4 linked regions of the Homo sapiens genome follow. The protein of the gene in region 3 purifies or fractionates together with the protein of the main gene of each other region. This does not show direct contact. Each region holds a gene or a part of one and is shown on either strand. Other genes may lie near its edges. The genes, in order: TMEM39A, TMEM132A, PCDHGA5 and MELK.

Region 1 (4,212 bases), on a different chromosome or scaffold from region 3:
GAATTTTTCAGTCTCTTGAATTTCTATCCCATTCTTATTGTTTCTATTTGTCAACTTTCTTTTTAGTGTACTGTTTTCAAATTTCATTAAATTTTTTATCTGTATATATTAATAGTTCACTGAACTTCTTTATGGGTATTATTCTGAATTCTTTGTCAGTTATTTCATAAATCTCCATTTCTTTGGGGTCTATTATTGGAGCTTTATTAGTTTCTTTTGTAGGTGTCATGATTCCCTGATTCTTCATAATCTGTATGTTCTTGTATTGTTGTCAGTGCATTTGAGGAGACAGCCCCCTCTTCTGGCCGTTACAGGTGTTCTTGGGAAGGGATAGACCTTCACTATTTAGTCTATCCTATGATTCCAGAAGGGTCAGCTGATCAGTTAAGTGATGCTGATGCTGCTGATCTAGAGATTACTTTGGGAACTAGAAACCAGTGGATCATAAGTTATTCTTAGCTTATAATCTTTCATTAGCTGTCTTCTGTCTACAAAAGTTCCAAGACATCTGTCTGCTTATTTGAAGTACTTATGAAAAGAGCACTTTATTGGGCTTCACACTCAAGATTGTTAATAGATCTGATATCTATTACGTATCTCATACATATTTCTGTTAATGAACACCCTAGTGTGACAACTGGTTTACTTGTCTGTCTTCTATTAGTTAATGAACTCGAACATCACTATCTCCGGCACCCAGCAGTGTTTGGCATATAATTGCCCAGTACATAGAAATGAGATGCCTGGCTAGCTTAATAGAAATAAAAAAATTAATTAAAAAAAAGAGAGAGAAACGGCACAACAGGTGGCAGTGGTGGTGACTGATAGGGACAGGAAGGAAAGGAGGATTAGGAATATAAACATGGAATCAGAGTAAACAGGATATTGAGGAAAACTTCTGTCATGCTCATTCCTGTGAACTACCCTCCTCTACTCCTTTATTTACCCACCTTAGACCACCCAGACTAGTCAAGTATCTTCTTTCCTTTTCCAGTATCCCAGTTCACCCAACTGAACTTTTGCTATACCATGCTTTCCACAAACAATTTTAACTTGCCAACAAAGAATTACAAAAAAGGTCATTCTTTAATGATTACACATTTTTCTACTATCAGTGAGCAAATATAGTGTCCCTTCTGTTACATGAACTATAATAGGATATCCGGGTAACTAGTAATTTTTCTCTCTTCCATGAACGTGGCCCCTACAAAAACAAAACAACAAAACAAACAAACAAAAAACAGCTGGAATGTGTAGAACACGTTGAACTAAACGGTCTTATGCCCCGTATGCTGCCATATCTGGAGGTGAGGGTAGGAGGAACTTTGCAATTCCATTAGCCAAAATTAATTTTTATTTATTTCTTATATCCACTTACTTATTTAGCCAAGCCAGCATCTGGTTCTGTGCTATTCCCTTAGGATAGGACCAAGACAGATCAAGCCAGAAGGGGCATCATATTAGTTCATAAGACTGGTCTGTTATCTCTAATCAGGGTTTTCTGGGTTACTTTCCCAAGCTGGAGCCAAGTTGGGGCAATTTTGATGAGATATCTCTGTGCCCATGCCACCCATTTTGCTCTCAACTGCTGAGTAATCTCATGAAAATGTTGCTGCCAAGAGAAGCATATTTTCAAGATCCTACAGAAAGAATAGAAAGATGGCAGATTCCCTACCCTTCCCACCCCTACCTCAAGAACCACTATATTTAGGCTGAACTACTTTAAAAAGCAACTAACCTAATATATTTTCTTGCTATTCTTCCAATATACCAACTTGTCCCCACCTCAGGGCACTGCCCTTTCTGCTACTGTAACATGGAATTCTCCCCAAAGCTATTTATATGATTCAGTCTTGCTTTTTCTTTGCTTAAAAATCATCTCCTCAAAGATGCCTTCTAGCAGTGCTATTCTTACCACTATTTCCTTGTCCTGATTTCCCTTTGCTACACTTATCACTACTACCAGGGAATGTTATATTACACATAAATTTATTTGCTGTATTTTCTGCACCACCTAACTCCCCCACCCCCACGCATATTGTAAGCTCTGTGCAAGTAGGACCTTTGCATTTCTCATTCACTGCTATATCCCCAGGGCCTAATATAGTGCCTACTGGTTAATATATATTTGTTGAATGGTTGAACAGACTCAGACTGAATGCCAAATAATGTTAACTTAAAAAAAAAGTATACACATCAAAATATTTAAAGAAACAATTATTGATTTAAACATAAAACTGATATTGGGTACCTTGGTTTTACAAACACTCCTCACAATACTTCCCCTTGGTGAAGCCTTTCAGGAACTCTTCTGCAAGAATTATTTTCAGAGCCAGCTTGTCAACGACATGATTGGTCTTTTTACTTCATAAGTCTTATTTTGTTTCACCAAAAGCTTCACAGTGTAACAAACCAAACTCAGCACAGAAAACATATGACAATATATTTTAGATTCTCTAAGACAAGGTCTCATAAGTTTAGATGACAAGTGACAACATCAATGGACTAAGTATATCACCTCCCATAACTTAAAAGGCTAATACTCATAAACATGAAAGTTCTGGAGTATGAAATTTAAAACACAAATTTTGGATATAAATTATCTGAGTACAAAGCTGTAGGTAATTCTTATCTTTCACTTCCCCTCATAACTCCAAACATAACGCCATTGTAGGTGGGTTGCTGCTAGACTACATCCAAGATTGTTCAGCTGAGGACTTGCCCACTCTCCCAGTTACTTGGAATTTTCAACCTTCCCATACTCTAGCCCACATGGCATTTGCACTCAGCTTCTCCTACTGATCCAGCCACACATCATCTTCTTCATGAATGTGGGCAGTCTAAAGACTTCCTGTCTGGCAAAGTATTATTTCAAACAACTAAGAGGAAAATCTTTGGAAGCAGAAGTGGAAACACAGGAAAAGTGGCAGCAAAACCCTCAGCCTCAGGATAGTAGCTTATTCAAAAGTATATTTAAATGTCACAGGGTAAAATAGACCAGCTGAGTCCGTATCTTAGAAAGGAAGCCTACTGCTTTCTCCTGGTAGGCAACAAAGAGAACCCCACCTAGGACTTTAACCCACTCTTTTCCCAATGTATTCCAATACTATTAGCCAGCTGAACTAAAAGAGAATGGGTGCTGGTAGGCAACTCCATTGATCTCCCTTTCTTTAGCAATAAGTACTGGCCAGCTGAGGGCTAAAGATAATGAGGATTGAAAGAAAAGCAGACATACCAAAGGTACTGTGTCAAGTAATACATGAGATGTGTTCATAAACGAATGAGTTATTCCAGAGCCATACAAACAAATCAATCTCTTTACTGGACAGGCATACCTCTCATATGTATATTATTCGAATATACTAACACATGAAAGATCACATCACCTTGTTTACGGATACATTTAATATCCCTTACTCTTCCCGACTTTCAAAACATAATAGTATACAAAATATAAAATATCTTAAATATTTATAAAAATCACAAGAAAAAAATAGAACGTATGAAAATATTTTTATCTGAGTTCTCCCTCATTGTTGAGAGGCAGCTTAGTTTGCCTTGAGTTCATAACTGTTGAGTGGGTAGGAGTATGCCCTGCCTAATACTATTCTGTCCCGGAGAAGTTTAAATAAAACATAGTAGTTGCAGAAGAGGATGAGAGCCATGGAAAGTGTGTGGTTCCACTTCTCCGACCGCAGCAAGGAATAGAGCTGATAGAAGACGACACTGCCCTCAATAAGGATGAGCAGATTTAACAGCCTTAATGGTCGATGAAATAAGAACTGTAAGGAAGTTAAAAAAGTAAAACATTATTTCATAGAAAAGTAATGGCTACAGTTATTCTTGCATTGATTTTTCTAAAATAATTTAACATTTACAGGTTCCCATATATAATAATAAATAGATCTGTTTATTTAATATCAATCAGGCTATTTCTTGCTATAAAGATTGAAACCTTTTCCTTTTTGCTCAAGAAATAATGAAATAATTTTTATTTCAATGCCCCTGAGACACGAAAAGAGATTATGCCCAAAAGAAAACTACTTATAAACATTTTTCTTAGATTATATTTTAGGTATATATTTTATTTAGGATAAACACAAAAGTATATTCATCTAAGACAGAGGTGGATAAAGGACCAAACAGGAAATATTTTAGGCTTTGTAAGTCAAGAGGCAAAAATTAAGGATATTACATAGGTACTTATGTAAC
Region 2 (3,245 bases), on a different chromosome or scaffold from region 3:
CTGACGGCCAGTCCCGGCCTCCCCGCCCTGCAGGCCTGCGGAACCCGCTGCAGAGGCGTCGGATGAGGCCGAGCGGCGCGCCCGTGGCTGCCACCTGCAGTACCAGCGGGCCGGTGTGCGCTTCCTCGCCCCCTTCGCGGCCCACCCGCTGGACGGCGGCCGCCGCCTCACGCACCTGCTTGGCCCCGACTGGCTGCTAGACGTGTCCCACCTCGTGGCGCCACACGCCCGCGTGCTGGACTCGCGTGTAGCCTCTCTGGAGGGTGGCCGTGTCGTGGTGGGCCGGGAGCCCGGTGTCACCTCCATTGAGGTAAGCAGCTGGGGACCAGGAGAGTAGACCCCCTGAGAAGGGTGGAGGGGCCCCCAAAATGTTCGTGGGTGGGAGTGAAGAGTGTGCCAGGAGCCCAGAGTGTGTGGGGGAGTTGTGCGGTCTAGGTCTGAGTGCAGTGGGATTGGGGATAGGCTCAGAATGGGGTGGCCGCATAAGGGGGGAAGCCCTCTAGCTATGAAGGGCTGAGGTGTGGGTAGTGTGGGGACCGGGTCTTGAGGGAAAAGGGAACTGCCCCCTAGGTGTGGGATTGGGGTCCAGGTATGCACCGGGGTGCAAAGAGTAGAGGGATAGTAGCCCATGAGCCTGCTGGGAGTACCCGGTTCCCTCTGGGTGGGGGCTGTCCGTGGCGAAGACCTCCCCCACCTCCGGAGGGCAGCCCGTGAGGGTGCTGGGAGCACCCGGTTCCCTCTGGGTGGGGGCTGTCTGTATGGAAGGCCCCCCACCTCCAGCTCCTTTCCACCCTCAGGTGCGTTCCCCACTGTCTGACTCCATCCTGGGGGAGCAGGCGCTGGCTGTGACGGACGACAAGGTCTCAGTGCTGGAGCTGAGGGTGCAGCCAGTGATGGGCATCTCGCTGACCTTGAGCCGGGGCACTGCCCACCCCGGGGAGGTCACAGCTACGTGCTGGGCACAGTCAGCCCTTCCCGCCCCAAAGCAGGTGACAGTTGGGGGGTCAGGGGGATGAGGTCAACATCTCCAGATGGGGGCTCATGGTAGAGGGGAATGGGAGGAAGGGACCCTGGTACCTCGACCCCTTAGGGTTTTCAGAGTGAGGACTGACTCTGTGAGGTAGTGAGCTCTCTGCAGCTGGAGGTGATCAAGCAGTGGCTGGAGTATGGCAGTGGGAGGTTGGTTAGATGGCTCTAACTGAGGACCCTCCCAATAACTCAGACCCTAGGGCTGAGTGGCAGACAGGTGATTGACACGCGTCCCCTCTCTCCCTGTGTTTTGTCTATCTGCCTGTGTCTCTGTTTTCTCTCTGGTCTCTCCTCCATGTGGCCTATCTCTGTGGGAGTGGTTTCTCTGTGCATGCGTGCGTGCCCTCGCATGTCTCTGCCTGTGTCTGTGTGCCCCACAGGAGGTGGCCCTCTCCCTATGGCTGTCCTTCTCTGATCACACTGTGGCCCCAGCTGAGCTCTACGACCGCCGTGACCTGGGACTGTCCGTCTCAGCCGAGGAGCCTGGTGCCATCCTGCCAGCTGAGGAGCAGGGTGCCCAGCTCGGGGTGGTGGTGAGTGGGGCAGGCGCCGAGGGGCTGCCGCTGCATGTGGCTCTGCACCCGCCCGAGCCCTGCCGCCGGGGCCGCCACCGTGTGCCTCTGGCCTCTGGCACCGCCTGGCTGGGGCTGCCCCCTGCCTCCACTCCAGCCCCTGCTCTCCCATCCAGCCCTGCTTGGAGCCCACCAGCCACAGAAGCCACCATGGGTGGTAAACGGCAGGTGGCAGGCAGTGTCGGGGGCAACACAGGTGTGAGGGGCAAGTTTGAGCGGGCAGAGGAGGAGGCCAGGAAGGAGGAGACCGAAGCCAGGGAGGAGGAGGAGGAAGAGGAGGAGGAGATGGTCCCTGCCCCTCAGCATGTCACTGAGCTAGAGCTGGGCATGTACGCCCTGCTGGGAGTCTTCTGCGTGGCCATCTTCATCTTCTTGGTCAATGGTGTGGTCTTCGTCCTGCGCTATCAGCGCAAAGAACCTCCCGACAGTGCCACTGACCCCACCTCCCCCCAGCCCCACAACTGGGTCTGGCTGGGCACTGACCAGGAGGAACTGAGCCGCCAGCTGGACCGGCAGTCCCCTGGCCCGCCCAAGGGGGAGGGGAGCTGCCCCTGTGAGAGTGGGGGAGGAGGGGAGGCCCCTACCCTGGCCCCTGGCCCTCCTGGGGGCACCACCAGCTCCTCAAGCACCCTGGCCCGAAAGGAGGCTGGGGGGCGGCGGAAGCGAGTAGAGTTTGTGACATTTGCGCCAGCCCCTCCAGCCCAGTCACCTGAGGAGCCTGTAGGGGCCCCTGCTGTGCAGTCCATCCTTGTGGCAGGCGAGGAGGACATCCGCTGGGTGTGTGAGGACATGGGGCTGAAGGACCCTGAGGAGCTTCGCAACTACATGGAGAGGATCCGGGGCAGCTCCTGACCCTCCACAGCCACCTGGTCAGCCACCAGCTGGGGCAACGAGGGTGGAGGTCCCACTGAGCCTCTCGCCTGCCCCCGCCACTCGTCTGGTGCTTGTTGATCCAAGTCCCCTGCCTGGTCCCCCACAAGGACTCCCATCCAGGCCCCCTCTGCCCTGCCCCTTGTCATGGACCATGGTCGTGAGGAAGGGCTCATGCCCCTTATTTATGGGAACCATTTCATTCTAACAGAATAAACCGAGAAGGAAACCAGAGCTGGGACTGCTGCCGTCTGTCCGGTAGAGTGAAGCAAGGGGGCTGGAATAGGGCCTGTTCAGCCCCTGTCCCTGCTGAAACGGCTGTGGGAGGCTGGGCCCTGGGACGCCCTCTCATAGCGTCCAGCGATCCAGACAAATAGGAGAGCCGTGACGGCCTGAATGCCAGCCAGCAGGAAGAAGTAGAGGTCCATCCGGCAATTGTTGATGTTCCCTGGGGAAAGGAGGGGTTAGATTTGGGTCAGGACAGGGATCCTCTGTCTTGCGCCCTGTGCCTGCCGTGTCCTAGCCCTGGGGCTGGCAACTGAGGCCATGTGGGCAGTGGTGGGATCTGAAGACACTGGACAGATACCCACTAATGTTTGACTTCCTGAAGATCTCCAGGGGTGTCTACAATTCCTCTTCAGCTATTCAGAAGGGGGCGTGAAATATAAACACCATGAGAAAGGTAACCCTTCAGCCAGAGATGGCAGAGTTCCAGAAGCAGAAAGGAGCCTTGGAGGTCCACTAAGTTCAACACTTGGGGAAAGAAAGGCCCAA
Region 3 (7,045 bases):
GAGGACAGCCTCTCATCCTGCTCAGGTAATAGAGAAGCCGAGGCTGGATCCAAAGGCAGCCATGGTCCCTATAGTAGAAAGAGCATAAACTTAGGAGTTGAGCCAGGTTAGAACCTCAGCTTGGCAGCTCAAAACTGAGGACCCTGGGGCAAGTGCCTTCTCGGTTCTCTCATCTGTCGAGTGTGAGAAATCAGACCTGCCTTGCAGAGCTATTGAGAGGATTCATTGACAGGAGGCCCCTAAAGTTTGTTTAGTATGTGCCCAGGTGTGATGACAGTGCTTCTTGTGATTTCACCTGGTTCTCTACCCACCAGTCCTCCAGACATGCTGGAGGGCAGGGCTATCAGTTCATGATATAGGGCAATGCCTTGATCCTCTGCCAGCCTCCTTATAAGCCCAGGATTTGCTGCTCCAGAAGCTAGTCTTTATTAATAGGCATTATTCTAATTCTGCTTTCTACCCAGTAAAAAACGGGTTTGGGTCAGCAAAGATAATAATATATTGTGCCCTTACTCTCTGCCAATCCTGTGCTGAGGGACTTGCATTTGGCCCTGGTAACACCACAATGAGATCCGTTAATACTGTGCCCATTAATAGTAAGTGAAACCGAGGGGGTTTAATAACTTACCTAAGGACTCATTGCTAAGTGGTGGTGCCAGGTGCCAGGATTTGAATCCAGATTGGCCTGCCTCTAAAGCCTGTGCTCTTTTTTTTTTTTTTTTTTTTTGAGACAGAGCGAGACTGTTGCCCAGGCTGGAGTGCAGTGGTGCGATTTTCTGCTCACCACAGCCACCTCCCAGGTTCAAGCGATTCTCCTGCCTCAGCCTCCCAAGTAGCTGGGACTACAGGCACGCACCACCATGCCCAGCTAATTTTTGTATTTTTAGTAGAGACAGGGTTTCACTATGTTGGCCAGGCCGGTTTCGAACTCCTGACCTCATGATCCTCCTGCCTCAGCTTCCCAAAGTGCTGGGATTACAGGCGTGAGCCACCACGCCCAGCTTAGGCTGTGCTCTTAAGGACAAATGATATTCTTCTTCTCCTGCTCTGGGCCCTAGTGACTCTTCAGGGACAACCACCACTAGCCGAATCTCTATTACAAAGGAAGCCCTTAGTCAACCTTATGGGAAAACCAGAATCCTACTCTGGAGTTAGGGGCAGCAAAAGAGGAGCCTCGCATAAAGAGGAGGTGTTCTCTCGGCTGGGGATTTCTACACCCACTTTCATTGCTTGAGGGCTTCCAAGCGCCAGGCCCAGAACTCTATGCTTTGTGGTATCATCTCATTTAATCTCTACAACAACCCTTTGGGGTCCCTGTCCCCACTTTCTAGGCTGAGGAAACTGAGGTTTAGAGAGATTGAGCAAGTCGATCCAAGTCCCAAGGATAGTAGCAGAGCTAGGACCTGAGCTACACTGTCCCATTCCAGAGCTAGACTTGTAACCACTATTCCCTCCATGAGTCTTTTCCTTGTTCGCTCTCCTCCAGGCATCCCAGGACCCCCAACCCCTCTGCTGTTCCTTAGCCACAATTCCAGGCTTTATGTTTGGAATTGTGGGTCCTTTCAGACCTGCCGAAAGATCTGGAGAAACTACACAGGTTTGACATCCAGTCCGTGGGCATGGTGGCTGTGAGATGCACCCCAGAACCCCAGGTCTCCCACTCTTCCATACACACACTGACACCACTTACCACTGGCGGACGCCAAGATCATGGCTTGCAGCATCTCTGTGTCAAACTGGTTGTTGGGCCAGGTGCCGGTGTCATCGCCATTTTGGGAGCTGGGGAGAGAGTAGGATGGTGAGCACAGACTCCCAGGCCGGCACAGCTCATGCCCCTCCTGTCCTCTCCCAGGGCTCCCAAACCTAGTACCCTAACCCTACCCCATGCCCAAGACCTGTTTCTCTCAGCAAGGTAGGAGGCACTTCTACAATCCTTCAGAAGCCAGAATCCCACAAGTCAGTCCCTCAAACCAGCTCTTTGCTGCCTCCGATGCTTTTTTCTTTTTGTTTTAGACAGGGTCTTACTCTGTCATCCAGGCTGGAGTGCAGTGGCGCGATCTTGGCTCATTGCAACATCCACCTCCTGGGTTCAAGCGATTCTCCTGCCTCAGTCTCCCAAGTAGCTGGGATGACAGGCACCTGCCACTGTGCCAGGCTAATTTTTGTATTTTTAGTACAGACGGGGTTTCACCATGTTGGCCAGGCTGGTCCAATGCATTGAACATAGTGCATTCCCCCACCCACCATGAGAGAGCCTGGCTTCCTGTCATAGTGAGGGAGATCAGACCTTCTCCAGAGGACTGTGAAGGTGGGAAATGGAAGAGAATGTTCCAGAGCTAGAGAAAAAGTGGGGACCTAGGAGGTACCTAGGGGGAGATGTAGGAGGCCCCAAGAGACCCTGGAGCAGGGAGAAGAAATTTCTAAAATTCAATGGCTTCCTAAGCCCTCAGAGTAAAATCCACGGCCATAGAAGAACCTGCCCCTCCTATTTTACAAGAACCCCCACCCCCCGCCCTCAAACACTCTATCATCAAACCTTTTCCAAGGTGCACTTTCCTATCCCTCAAGTTCCCTCTTGCTGTGAATCCTGGGCAGATGGTGTTCCCTAGAATGCCAGTCCCCCAACATTTGCCATGATGACACGAATAAAATATATCAGAGGAGATCCACTCAGACTGGGCAGGTGCCTCCACTGTACTCCCATCCCAGCGGCTGCCCCACATGGCACTAGTCACACTGCAGCTGTTGTAGTGCCTGTCTGTTCCTCCACCACACTGGCTTCTGTGAGGCAGCGACTCCACCTGCTTCCTACTGAAGCACCTAGCACAAAGCCTAGCACTTGGACCTAAGTGAGACTTTTAGAAACTCCGAGTGTTGAAAAAACATGAAATGATTCATAATTTAAAAAAATACTAAACCATAAGAAGAACTCTCTGCTTCTTAGAAGGTTCAGCTCTACTTGGAATTTTCCCACAGTGACAATTTTCATGATTTTTTTGAATTTCCAAGGATGAAATTATTTCAATTTGCAGGGGAGTGTTGGCGGGAAACAGCCCTGGCACACACACAGTCTGCCCTTTAGGTAACTGTTTGGCACCATCTGGCTCAGAGAAGTTTTTCAATAAATATTTGTTGCCTAAATGAGTGGGAAGAGACCAGCAGAGACAGTTAAGTGACTGTAAGGTAAGAAGAAGGGTTTGGCACCATGGGAAAGGCTGTAGGGTAGGCCTTGAAGGCATGAAAATGTCTGTGTGTGTGTTGCGTTGTGTGTGTGCATATTTTGTCATGGTGGGTGAGCACAACCAAGAACTGCTTTACAATTTTTCCAAGGTCTGTCCCTGCTTTTGGTTTTGCCCAATCTGGGATTCCCCGTCCCTAAGTAGATGAACTCAGCCTAAGAACAGACACAAGGCTGCCATGTGTGACCTCTATACCATCACAACAAACATAAAGCTAGGGTTGAAGGGGAAAGCAGGAATCTCAATTCTCCTTCCCAAAAGTGGGAAGAGTTGTAATTCTGTTTCCATTGATTCAATAATTATTTCTTTTCTTTTTTCTTTTTTTTTTTTTTTTGAGCTGGAGTCTCGCTCTGTCACCCAGGCTGGAGTACAGTGGCGCGATCTCGGCTCACTGCAACCTCTGCCTCCCAGGTTCAAGTGATTCTCCTGCCTCAGCCTCTTGAGCAGCTGGGACGACAAGTGCACACATGCCACCATGCCCAGCGAATTTTTGTATTTTTAGTAGAGATGGGGTTTCACCATATTGGCCAGGTTGGTTTCGAACTCCTGACCTCATGATCCACCTGCCTCCGCTTCCCAAAGTGCTGGAATTACAGGCGTGAGCCACCGCGCCCCTCCAACAATTCTTTCTTGAGCAATTTCTATGTACCAGACACAGAGCCAGGTGCTGGGGTTGTGGCTGTGAGTATGATAGAAACTGTCCATCTTTACGGTGCTCATGGTGGGCACTGAGAGGCTGATTTTAAATAATTACACAATAGAGTAATTGCAATTGTGATACTTGCCATGGGCTGTGTCAGGGGCTACCAGAGGGTATGAAGAGAGGCAGGGGCGGGCAGACCACGAGGTCAGGAGATCGAGACCATTCTGACCAACATGGTGAAACCCTGTCTCAACTAAAATAGATATTAAAAAAAAAAAATTAACCGGGCATGGTGGCACACGCCTGTAATCCCAGCTACTTGGGAGGCTGAGGCAGGAGAATCGCTTGAACCCAGGAGGTGAAGGTTGCCACTGCACTCCAGCCTGGCAACAGAGCTAGACTCCCTGTCAAAAAAAAAAAAAAGACAGAGAGTCAGGGTTAGGCAGCTCAGCCAGTCCAGGCTTCCCCAAGGAAAAGACAGTGAATTTAAATCTGAAGAAATCATCCAGGTAATTTTCAGAAGAATACCAGCAAATACATGTAGAAGGAATGACAGAACATCACCGCTTTGTAATCACTGATGTAAAAACAGATACAGGCAAGGATCATCAGGGAATACTAAAATTGCATGAAGGGTTGCTGCCTATCTCAAAGTATCATCCACAGATTACTTATATTTTCACAAATATTTTAAAATATCTTTATAAAAATATATTTTTATAATGGAGAGATCTGGGACACTGTTTTTACCACACGAACAAACTCGGCATCACTGATAGTGGGACAGGCCGACGTTAGATGAGTCCCAGTGTGATGCTGCGGGAAGTATTCCTACCAAGGTGTGTAATCTGAATCTAACCATCAGAGAATAGCCAGCAAATCCAGGTTCGGGGACATTTTAAAGTACAACTGGCCTGGACTCTTTAAAAATATCCATGTCATTAAAAAAATAAAAAGACTGGGAGCTGGCTCCAGATTAAAGGAGAGGAAAGACGTGACAACCAAATGCAATCTATGCTCCTTGATAAAATCCTGGATTAAAAAAAAGGATAAAAGAACACACAGAACATTTATGAAAATCTGCTGGTGGATTCTATATTATTGTATTAATGTTAAATTCCTCAACTGAATATCTGGGGTCCTTACTTCCGGCCCGACTGAGCTCTGTGGGCCTGGCTGAGGGTGCAGGGTCAAGGCCAGGTGTTCTCAGCCCCAGGTGAAGGGGGCTAATGGGAATAAAGTAGGGAGAGCAGGCAAGCGGCGGGGGTTGCAGGGAGGAGAGCATGCGGGTTGTCAGGGAGACAACGGGACCAGATGCCAGAGGTTAGGAGGATGACCTGTCACAGGGAGCAGTGGTGTTGAGGGAACAAAGCTGAGTGGAACAGTGGGGTTGGAACCATGATGATCAGGAGTGTAAGGAGGCGTCCTGGGAAATGGTTGAAGGTTGAGGGCCAAACAGGTGGGTGGGCTGCCAATTATGTGAAGCTGGGTAAGAGATGAGCAGAGGGAGAGAGACCTCTTTTTTAACCATTTACTGAGAGCTTCCTATTCTAAGCTGACTGGGTAATATATTTGTCTTTTTTATCCTCGGAATCACCCTGCAGATAAGTGTTGTGATTATCTATATTTTCCAACAGATGAAAACAGGGCTCAGAGAGGTTGAGAGACTATACCAGAGTCACACAGCTGGAACTGGTAGAGTTGCAACCTGAAAGCCAGCCTAATATGATTCCAGGGCCTATGATCTTATGCACAACAACGTACTGGGCTTCAGCTTGGAGGCCTTGGAGCCCCAGCAGCAGATATGAGGGACTCTTCCAGGATTTGGGGAATAGTGAAAAGTAAAAATGGAAGAAATGGACTACATTTAGTCAACTATTTTCCAAGCAGTGGCCTGTGACAGGACCTAGGATTTAAGAGATGATGAATATGGTTCTTGCCCTATTGAGTTTGGGGTGTGTGTGTGTGTGTGTGTGTGTGTGTGTGTGTGTGTGTGTGTATAAGGGAATATCCCATAGACTGGACTATAATAAAATACTCCCTACATCATGCTCAAAAAACTGAGAAATCTAGGAAGTCACCCTGACAACACCCTGAATTTAATTGTGTTAAAATGTAAATGAGGCTGGGGATGGTGGCTCCCACCTGTAATCCCAGCACTTAGGGAGGCTGAGGCAGGCGGATCACGAGGTCAAGAGATTGAGACCATCCTGGTCAACATGGTGAAACCCCGTCTCTACTAAAAATACAAAAATTAGCTGGGCGTGGTGGCGCGTGCCTGTAGTCCCAGCTACTCAGGAGGCTGAGGCAGGAGAATTGCTTGAACCCAGGAGGTGGAGCTTGCAGTGAGCCGAGATGGCGCCACTGCACCCCAGCCTGGAGACAGAGCGAGACTGTCTCAAAAAAAAAAAATTGTAAATGAATGTGTATGTTTTCTAATGTAGCAAAAGCCCATTAGCATTAGAAAAATAATATGTATATTCATATGAGGACTTATTCTGTAAAATAATATGTATATTCATAAGAGGAGTTACTCTGCAAATGACTTGGGAAGAATTTTGAAAGACATGGGGAAATTCTCATGATACACTGCAAAGAAGAAAAAAGCTATAATTCTGTTGGACAGTATGGCCTCAGTTGCTATTTTTAAAAAACTAGTAGGAAATGTACCGTATGACTGGGAATAACAGTTCTTAATATGTGAATAAAGTGTCACATGAAAGTGTGACAAGTTTGTGAACAACTTATTTAGGTGAATGAGATTTTTTTAAAATGAAGCTCGGCCAGGCGCGGTGGCTCACGCCTGTAATCCCAGCACTTTGGGAGGCCGAGGCGGGCGGATCACGAGGTCAGGAGATCGAGACCATCCTGGCTAACACGGTGAAACCCCGTCTCTACTAAAAATACAAAATAATTAGCCGGGCGTGGTAGTGGGCGCCTGTAGTCCCAGCTATTCTGGAGGCTGAGGCAGGAGCATGGCGTGAACCTGGGAGGCGGAGCTTGCAGTGAGCCGAGATTGCGCCACTGCAGTCCAGCCTGGGTGACAGAGCAAGGCTACGTATCAATAAATAAATAAATAAATAAATAAATAAATAAATAAATAAAAATAAAAATGAAGCTCATGCATGTTCTTTGATTACACAAAGAAAAGTTTAGAAAGATA
Region 4 (7,045 bases), on a different chromosome or scaffold from region 3:
GGCACGATCTCAGTTCACTGCGATTTTCGCCTCCTGGGTTCAAGCAATTCTCCTGCCTCAGCCTCCCATGGAGCTGGGATTACAGGCATGCGCCACCACACCTGGCTAATTTTGTATTTTTAGTAGAGACGAGGTTTCACCATGTTGGTCAGGCTGGTCTCGAACTGCTGACCTCAAGTGATCCACCTGCCTCAGCCTCCCAAAGTGCTGGGATTACAGGCGTGAGCCACCATGCCCAGCCCCTTCTAAAGTCTTTCCTGAGCAAATGCACAGCCCTGGGTATGAGCACATCCTATACATGTACATTGGGCTTGTAGATACCCTGGTATATTTTGGAGCTTTTCCAATTCACTGTGGACATCTTATTCTCTAACTTTTTTTTCAGCATTTTTGTTAGTTTATTGTGGTCACCAGCTATTACTTACTGCTTCGGCAGCCACAATGTGCAACAATTGCCTGTAAATTTTTTTTTGTTTTTGAGATAGGATCTCATTCCGTCAACCAGGCTGGAGTCCAGTGGTGTGATCATGGCTCACTGCAGCCTCGACCTCCTGGGCTTAAGCAATTTTCTTGCCTCAGCCTCCCGAGTATCGGGGACTATAGGCATGCACCACCATGCCCAGCTAATTTTTACAAAATTATTTTGTAGAGACAGGGTCTCAATATTTTGCCCAGGCTGGTCTCAAACTCCTGGACTCAAGAGATCCACCCGCGTTGGCCTCCCAAAGTGCTGGGATTACAGGCGTGAGCCACTGCGCCTGGCACCTCTAAATCTTTTTAACAGATGCTGCTGGGGAAAAGGCTGTTCATACTGGGCAGGCTCTGAGTAAGGTCAAATAAAGACAGCTTTCAGGCTGGGTGCAGTGGCTCACGCCTGTAATCCCAGCACTTTGGGGGGCTGAGGCGGGTGGATCACCTGAGGTCGGGAGTTCAAGACCTACCTGACCAACATGGAGAAACCCCGTCTCTACTAAAAATACAAAATTAGCTGCCTGTGGTGGCACATGCCTGTAATCCCAGCTACTCGGAAGGCTGAGGCAGGAGAATTGCTTGAACCCGGGAGGTGGAGTTTGCAGTGAGCTGAGTTCACGCCATTACACTCCAGCCTGGGCAACAAGAGCAAAACTCCGTCTCAAATAAAAAACAAACAAAGAATAAAAAAAGACAGCTTTCATAGTAGGGTCTTCTAGGGAACTACTGGCCAGGCTAAATAATGACAGTTTTCTGAGCATGAAGCTTTGAAGGAGCTCCAACCTGTTCTGCCCCCTCCAGCGGCTCCTAGGTTGCTGGTCTTCATCGTGATTGTGGGCTGTGGGTTTCTAAGACTATCATAGAGCTGGAGAGAGAAGAATGGGGATAGGTAGGGCAAATTCAAACACCTCAAACTCACTGTTTCTACTTAGCTGTTTTCTATGAATAAATGCTGCGATCTTTGGCTAATACACAGAGTTCTGAAACAAAAGAGGTATACTTTGTTTATGGATAGGGAGATTTGAAGGTATAGATTTCAGTTTTTCCCAAAATGAATTTTAAATTTAATGTAATCTCAACTTTTCAGTGGATGTAAAATAAGTCAAAATGATTCTAAAATGTATGTGGAAATACAAAGGGGCAAGAATAACTAAATCATTCCTAAAGAATAAGAAGATGGGAGGAAACTGGTCAACCTGATAAAAGAACTATTATAAAATTAAAGAAAGTAAGATTTCCTTAATAAATAAAACAATGAAACAAATAAAACAATGAAACCTTTCATACCTTATATTTAGGTATGTCTCTTTAAAAATAACATAGCTAGGCCGGGCGCGGTGGCTCACGCCTGTAATCCCAGCACTTTGGGAGGCCAAGGTGGGTGGATCATGAGGTCAGGAGATTGAGACCATCCTGGCTAACACAATGAAACTCCATCTCTACTAAAAAATACAAAAAATTAGCTGGGCATGGTGGCGGGCACCTCTAGTCCCAGTTACTTGGGAGGCTGAGGCAGGAGAATGGCATGAACCCGGGAGGCGGAGCTTGCAGTGAGCCGAGATTGCACCACTGCACTCCAGCCTAGGTGACAGAGCGAGACTCCGTCTCAAAAAAAAAAAAAAAAAAAACAAAACAAACAAAGAAAAAAACATAGCTAGATTTGGTATGCAAACTGAAAATCTTGTCTTTTGAATTGAGCGCTTACCCAACTTATTTTTATTATGGATTTAGTTATTATATATCTTTCTTTTTTTATGTTTCCTATGTGTCTTTTTCTGTATTTCCCCCTTATTTCTTGATTTTTTATGTTAATTTCCCCCCACATTTTATTGGTTTCTATTTGATTTCTATTCTTTTAATATTTACTCTAAATTTTTAACATTTAATTTAACGAAATATAAAGTGAATCTGTATCTTTTTTTTTTTTTTTTTAAGATGGAATCTTGCTCTGTTGCCCAGGCTTGAGTGCAATGGCGTGATCTCAGGCTCACTGCAACCTCTTCCTCCTGGGTTCAAGTGATTCTCCTGCCTCAGCCTCCCAAGTAGCCGGGTTTACAGGCACCCGCCACCATGTCTGGCTAATTTTTGTATTTTTAGTAGAGACAGGGTTTCACCATGTTGGCCAGGCTGGTCTCGAACTCCTGACCTCAGGTGATCCACCTGCCTCGGCCTCCCAAAGTGCTAGAATTACAGGCGTGAGCCCCTGCACCCTGCTGTGAATCTGTATGTTTAATTTCCTTCTAAACAATATGAAGGCCTTAGAACACTTAATCTCTGATTACCCCTCCTGGATTCCATGCTATTGATGTGTCCAGTGTATTAGCTCTTGAATGTTTTTAACTTTTTATTTTGAAATATTTATGGATTCACAGGATGTTATTGAAGATATTATTCCACTTTCTTCTTGCTTCTATTGTTGCTATTGAAAAACCAACCTCAGTCTAGTGCCTTTTTAGTCTGTCTTTTCTCTCTGGCTCCTTTTAGGACCTTCTCTTTGCTTTTGGTGTTCTGCAGTTTCACTGTTAGGGCTACTGCGTTGCACACCTCCAGGGAACACACCATCTGTGTGGTGTCTCTGTGGATAGTGTCCTCTGGAGTTGTATAATCTGGTAAATAGAGATGTGGATTTCTTTTATGTATCCAGTTCATGATTCATCATGCTTTCTATGTATGGGGATTTGTATTTTTAATCAATTTTTGAAAATTTCTTGAATAATATACTGCTTTTTCTTTTTCTCCTTTTCCTTGTTTCTTTTTTTTTTTCTTTTTGAGACAGAGTTTCTCTCTTCTTGCCCAGGCTGGAGTGCAATGGCACGATCTCAGCTTACTGCAACCTCTGCTTCCCAGGTTCAAGCGATTTTCCTACCTCAGCCTCCCGAGTAGCTGGGATTACAGGTGCCTGTCCCCATGCCCAGCTAATTTTTGTATTATTAGTAGAGACAGAGTTTCACCATGTTGGCCAGGCTGGTCTTGTACTCCTGACCTCAGGTGATCACATGACTTGGCCTCCCAAAGTGCTGGGATTACAGGTGTGAGCCAGCGCACCCAGCCTGCTTTTCTTTAAAACAATATTTATATAAATTTATAGAGTACAAGTACAATTTTCTTAGATGCATAGTGGTCAAGTGAGAGGTTTTAAGGTGTCAGCTGAATAATGTACATCGCACCCCTTAAGTAATTTCTCATCACCAACCCCCTTCCATCTCCTCACCCTTCCAAGTCTACATTTTCTATCATTCCACTCTCTACATCCACGTGTACACCCTTTTTTAGCACCCACTTATGAGTGAGAACATGCAATATTTGTCATTCTGTGTCTGGCTTGTTTCACTTAAGGTAACCTCCACTTCCATCCACCTTGTTGCAAAAGATAGGATTTCATTCTTTTTTATGGTTGAATAGTATTCTATCTGTGTGTCTGTCTGTCTATCTATCTCACATTTCCTTTATGCAGTCATCTGTTGATGGACACTTGGGTTGATTTTGTATCTTTGCTATTGTGAATAAGTACTGAGATAAATATACAAGTGCAGGTATGTTTTTGATGTATTGATTTCTTTTCCTTTGGGAAAAGAAGTAGAGGGAATTGCTGCTTTTGCATTGTCCATACTATGTATATCTGGAACTTAGAATAGCCTTATGTTAGACATTTTATTTCATTTTCTGTTTCCTTCAACCATCTTTCACGTATCGTATGTCTTTTTCTGTCTTGGCTACATTCAGAGTTATTTCGGATTTATATTTCTATTAAAATATCTCTATTTCTTTTATTCTGTTATTTGACATGTGCATTGCACTTTTCATTTTTATCATGTTTTTATTTCTAGAAGTTTTTATTCTTTTTCAAATCTATTTGAACAGTTTTGGTAGTCTTTTGTTCTTTACTCATGTTTTTGTTTCACTATTTTAAACATGCAAACATACTTATTTATGTTCTGTATTTGATAATTTTAATATCTGAAATCTTTATGCTCATAGTGCTTGTGTCTTTTGGAATTTTTTATGTAGGTTTATTTTTCTTTGAACTCTATGGGAATTATCTGAGGCTTGGGTTAAGGGCTTGAGTTGGGTTGGAGTGAAGCTTTTCTTTCAGGTAGGAGTTGTGCGTGCTTCTACCAGGTTCCTGGGGCACAACTTAGCATAGGACTACTTTAAGTTAAATTTAGGCTTGAGGTTTCTGGGACCATGCAGGTTGTATTAATTTGGACCTTTATTTATCTGAAGACTGGCCTGTGTTTACTTACAAATTATTAAAAGAAACTTCATTTTTCTCCTCCCTCAGAACCAAGACCAAGACACCCTTTTTCTTGCCTATTCCCTTTGAAGAGCAGATTTATATTTAACTCAGCCTTTAATTTTAGCTATAGCCCTTCCTGGCTTTACATGGGAGCTTTGGTTCTAACTCACCACCTTGCAGAGGCCCAAGGCTTCTGTGGCTGTAGAAACACATGCTATAGGTTATCAGAGGCAGAAGATAGCTGCCCTTAGGGCAGCAGAGAGTTTCAGCCTTGGTTACTCCTTTGGATTCATTCTCATGTTTTTAGTTTGGCCTCTCAGGATTTTACTTACTCTCTTGCAAGCTCAACCATAAATTTAAAAGGATTAAAAAGTATTTTTTATCCAATATTTCTGTTAGAGTAGTTTAACATGTTTTTTCTGCCCTAATTGCTGACTAAACTTTTTTTTTGGTACATGTCAGAGGCAAGCCGTGACTATCTAGGTATGGAAAGCATTTCTTAGTGATTGATTTGTGGCCATTCACAATATTGCCTAGGATCTGAGTATGTGTATACACTCAGCCTGTATCATGTTGAAAATTACTGTCAATAGAACAGACTAAAGTGATCTACATGTATTAAAGAAAACTATATATTTTCAAATTTCCTAATGTCAATAATATCCTTTTGATAATTCATTTTAATAAAAATAGTACAAGGTAGTTTGCAAATGATCAAGGAATGTTGTAAAGAAATTGACTTTTCTTCTTCAGTGTGCTTTATCTAGTAACTTTTTTTTTCCAGTTTACCAAGTACTGGACAGAATCAAATGGGGTGGAATCTAAATCATTAACTCCAGCCTTATGCAGAACACCTGCAAATAAATTAAAGAACAAAGAAAATGTATATACTCCTAAGTCTGCTGTAAAGAATGAAGAGTACTTTATGTTTCCTGAGCCAAAGACTCCAGTTAATAAGAACCAGCATAAGAGAGAAATACTCACTACGCCAAATCGTTACACTACACCCTCAAAAGGTATTTGCTAAGTGAATTAAGCAGTAAGAAGTTTCATTTTTCTTACCATGTTAAGTAAACATATAGCAGGTCAGAAATGACTAGCATTGCTTTCAGGAATTTCTAGGAGAAGTGAAGCTGTTTTTTATCATGTCATTTGCATTAGTTAAAATGAAAGCATATTTGTCAATTTCAATTTATTCTCAAATGATACCAAGTTTTTCCTCTTTTTCACGTTTATAAAATTGAATCATAGCATCCTAGGATATCAAAGCTGAAAGGCAAGTTAGAGCTCATTTAATCCAACTCCCTTTTTCACAGCTAAGAAACCTGAGACTCAGAAGGAGTGAAGTGATTTGCCCAAGGTCATATACCCAGGTTTAGACCTTTCATGCCCATTTACCCCGACTTATGACTCAAGCTGACGCCTCCGCTGAGCCTTTACTTATCTGGATCTCCAGTTGTGGTGTCTGGTCCTGTTCTGCCCTATGGTATTACTGCCTGTCCTCAGCAGGCAGGGTGAATCCATGATGCCCTTCCAGATATCTGTCTTTGTCCAGTTATCACAACTTCCTCATTTCCCTTGGTTTCCTCTTCAATTTAGTCATGAGCAGTTATTTAAACCATTTCCTTTATGATACTTCACTGTTTTGGTTGCTGGCCTCATCTGGACACATTCTATTTGATCAGACTGCCTCTTAGAATACAGTGCCTAGAACTAAACTGAGTTTTCTAGACTAGGTCTCACTAGGGTAGAGTGGTAAGTGTCATGACAGTAGAGACTCTCTGCCTTGTTTATTGCAGCATGGCATGGTCTGTAGTAGGGGCCATACCTGTCTGGTACATAGTACACAGTACTAGACCTGATGCCTAGTACATAATAGGGGCCATATTTATGTAATGAATTAATAAATTAGAGCCCAAAGGAATTTTATTTACAGTGATCCTGTTTATGTCACTTTAAAAAATGTTACCTAAACTTTATTAGCCTTTTTCCCCCCACCAATTGTGACCTTCTCAAGTTTCAAGATTCTAACAAACCTAAACTCTGGAGCATTGCCATGTGAACTGCTGGGAAACCACATCCTGCCATTGTGCTTCTAGTGTACTAATGGAGCTCATAGCCAGTTTGAGGGGTTAACTTCTTGTCTATAAAGATATTACGGAAGACTTTGCCAGAATATTTGCTAGAAGTCCCATTTTTATGTTAACGTCATTTTCCATTTCATCAACTCAAATAACACTTTCCGCCAAAATGTGAGGCCAGTTTGGTGTCCTGATGATGTCTGTGTTTGTGTGTGTGTGTGTGTGTGTGTGTGTGTGTGTGTGTGTGTGTGTGTGT

The links.
Region 1: the proteins of PCDHGA5 (region 3) and TMEM39A purify together in Homo sapiens (affinity purification with mass spectrometry; 2 studies listed by BioGRID and IntAct, with this or other methods). This does not show direct contact.
Region 2: the proteins of PCDHGA5 (region 3) and TMEM132A purify together in Homo sapiens (affinity purification with mass spectrometry; 2 studies listed by BioGRID and IntAct, with this or other methods). This does not show direct contact.
Region 4: the proteins of PCDHGA5 (region 3) and MELK purify together in Homo sapiens (co-immunoprecipitation; 3 studies listed by BioGRID and IntAct, with this or other methods). This does not show direct contact.

What each region holds. Positions count from the first base shown.
Region 1 is NC_000003.12:119,428,433-119,432,644, forward strand, and holds the end of TMEM39A (transmembrane protein 39A), read right to left. Parts: intron 3,783-4,212; coding exon 3,549-3,782; 3' UTR 517-3,548; downstream 1-516. UniProt on the Homo sapiens protein: Regulates autophagy by controlling the spatial distribution and levels of the intracellular phosphatidylinositol 4-phosphate (PtdIns(4)P) pools.
Region 2 is NC_000011.10:60,934,455-60,937,699, forward strand, and holds the end of TMEM132A (transmembrane protein 132A isoform b precursor), read left to right. Parts: intron 1-33; coding exon 34-310; intron 311-797; coding exon 798-989; intron 990-1,409; coding exon 1,410-2,453; 3' UTR 2,454-2,705; downstream 2,706-3,245. Other genes in the region: SLC15A3 (solute carrier family 15 member 3), read right to left, coding at 2,765-2,919. UniProt on the Homo sapiens protein: May play a role in embryonic and postnatal development of the brain. Increased resistance to cell death induced by serum starvation in cultured cells. Regulates cAMP-induced GFAP gene expression via STAT3 phosphorylation.
Region 3 is NC_000005.10:141,500,127-141,507,171, reverse strand, and holds part of PCDHGA5 (protocadherin gamma-A5 isoform 1 precursor), read right to left. Parts: intron 1,780-7,045; coding exon 1,691-1,779; intron 1-1,690. Other genes in the region: PCDHGC5 (protocadherin gamma-C5 isoform 1 precursor), read right to left, coding at 1,691-1,779; PCDHGC4 (protocadherin gamma-C4 isoform 1 precursor), read right to left, coding at 1,691-1,779; PCDHGC3 (protocadherin gamma-C3 isoform 1 precursor), read right to left, coding at 1,691-1,779; PCDHGA12 (protocadherin gamma-A12 isoform 1 precursor), read right to left, coding at 1,691-1,779; PCDHGA11 (protocadherin gamma-A11 isoform 1 precursor), read right to left, coding at 1,691-1,779; PCDHGB7 (protocadherin gamma-B7 isoform 1 precursor), read right to left, coding at 1,691-1,779; PCDHGA10 (protocadherin gamma-A10 isoform 1 precursor), read right to left, coding at 1,691-1,779; PCDHGB6 (protocadherin gamma-B6 isoform 1 precursor), read right to left, coding at 1,691-1,779; PCDHGA9 (protocadherin gamma-A9 isoform 1 precursor), read right to left, coding at 1,691-1,779; PCDHGB5 (protocadherin gamma-B5 isoform 1 precursor), read right to left, coding at 1,691-1,779; and 11 more. UniProt on the Homo sapiens protein: Potential calcium-dependent cell-adhesion protein. May be involved in the establishment and maintenance of specific neuronal connections in the brain.
Region 4 is NC_000009.12:36,659,858-36,666,902, forward strand, and holds part of MELK (maternal embryonic leucine zipper kinase), read left to right. Parts: intron 1-5,492; coding exon 5,493-5,724; intron 5,725-7,045. UniProt on the Homo sapiens protein: Serine/threonine-protein kinase involved in various processes such as cell cycle regulation, self-renewal of stem cells, apoptosis and splicing regulation. Has a broad substrate specificity; phosphorylates BCL2L14, CDC25B, MAP3K5/ASK1 and ZNF622.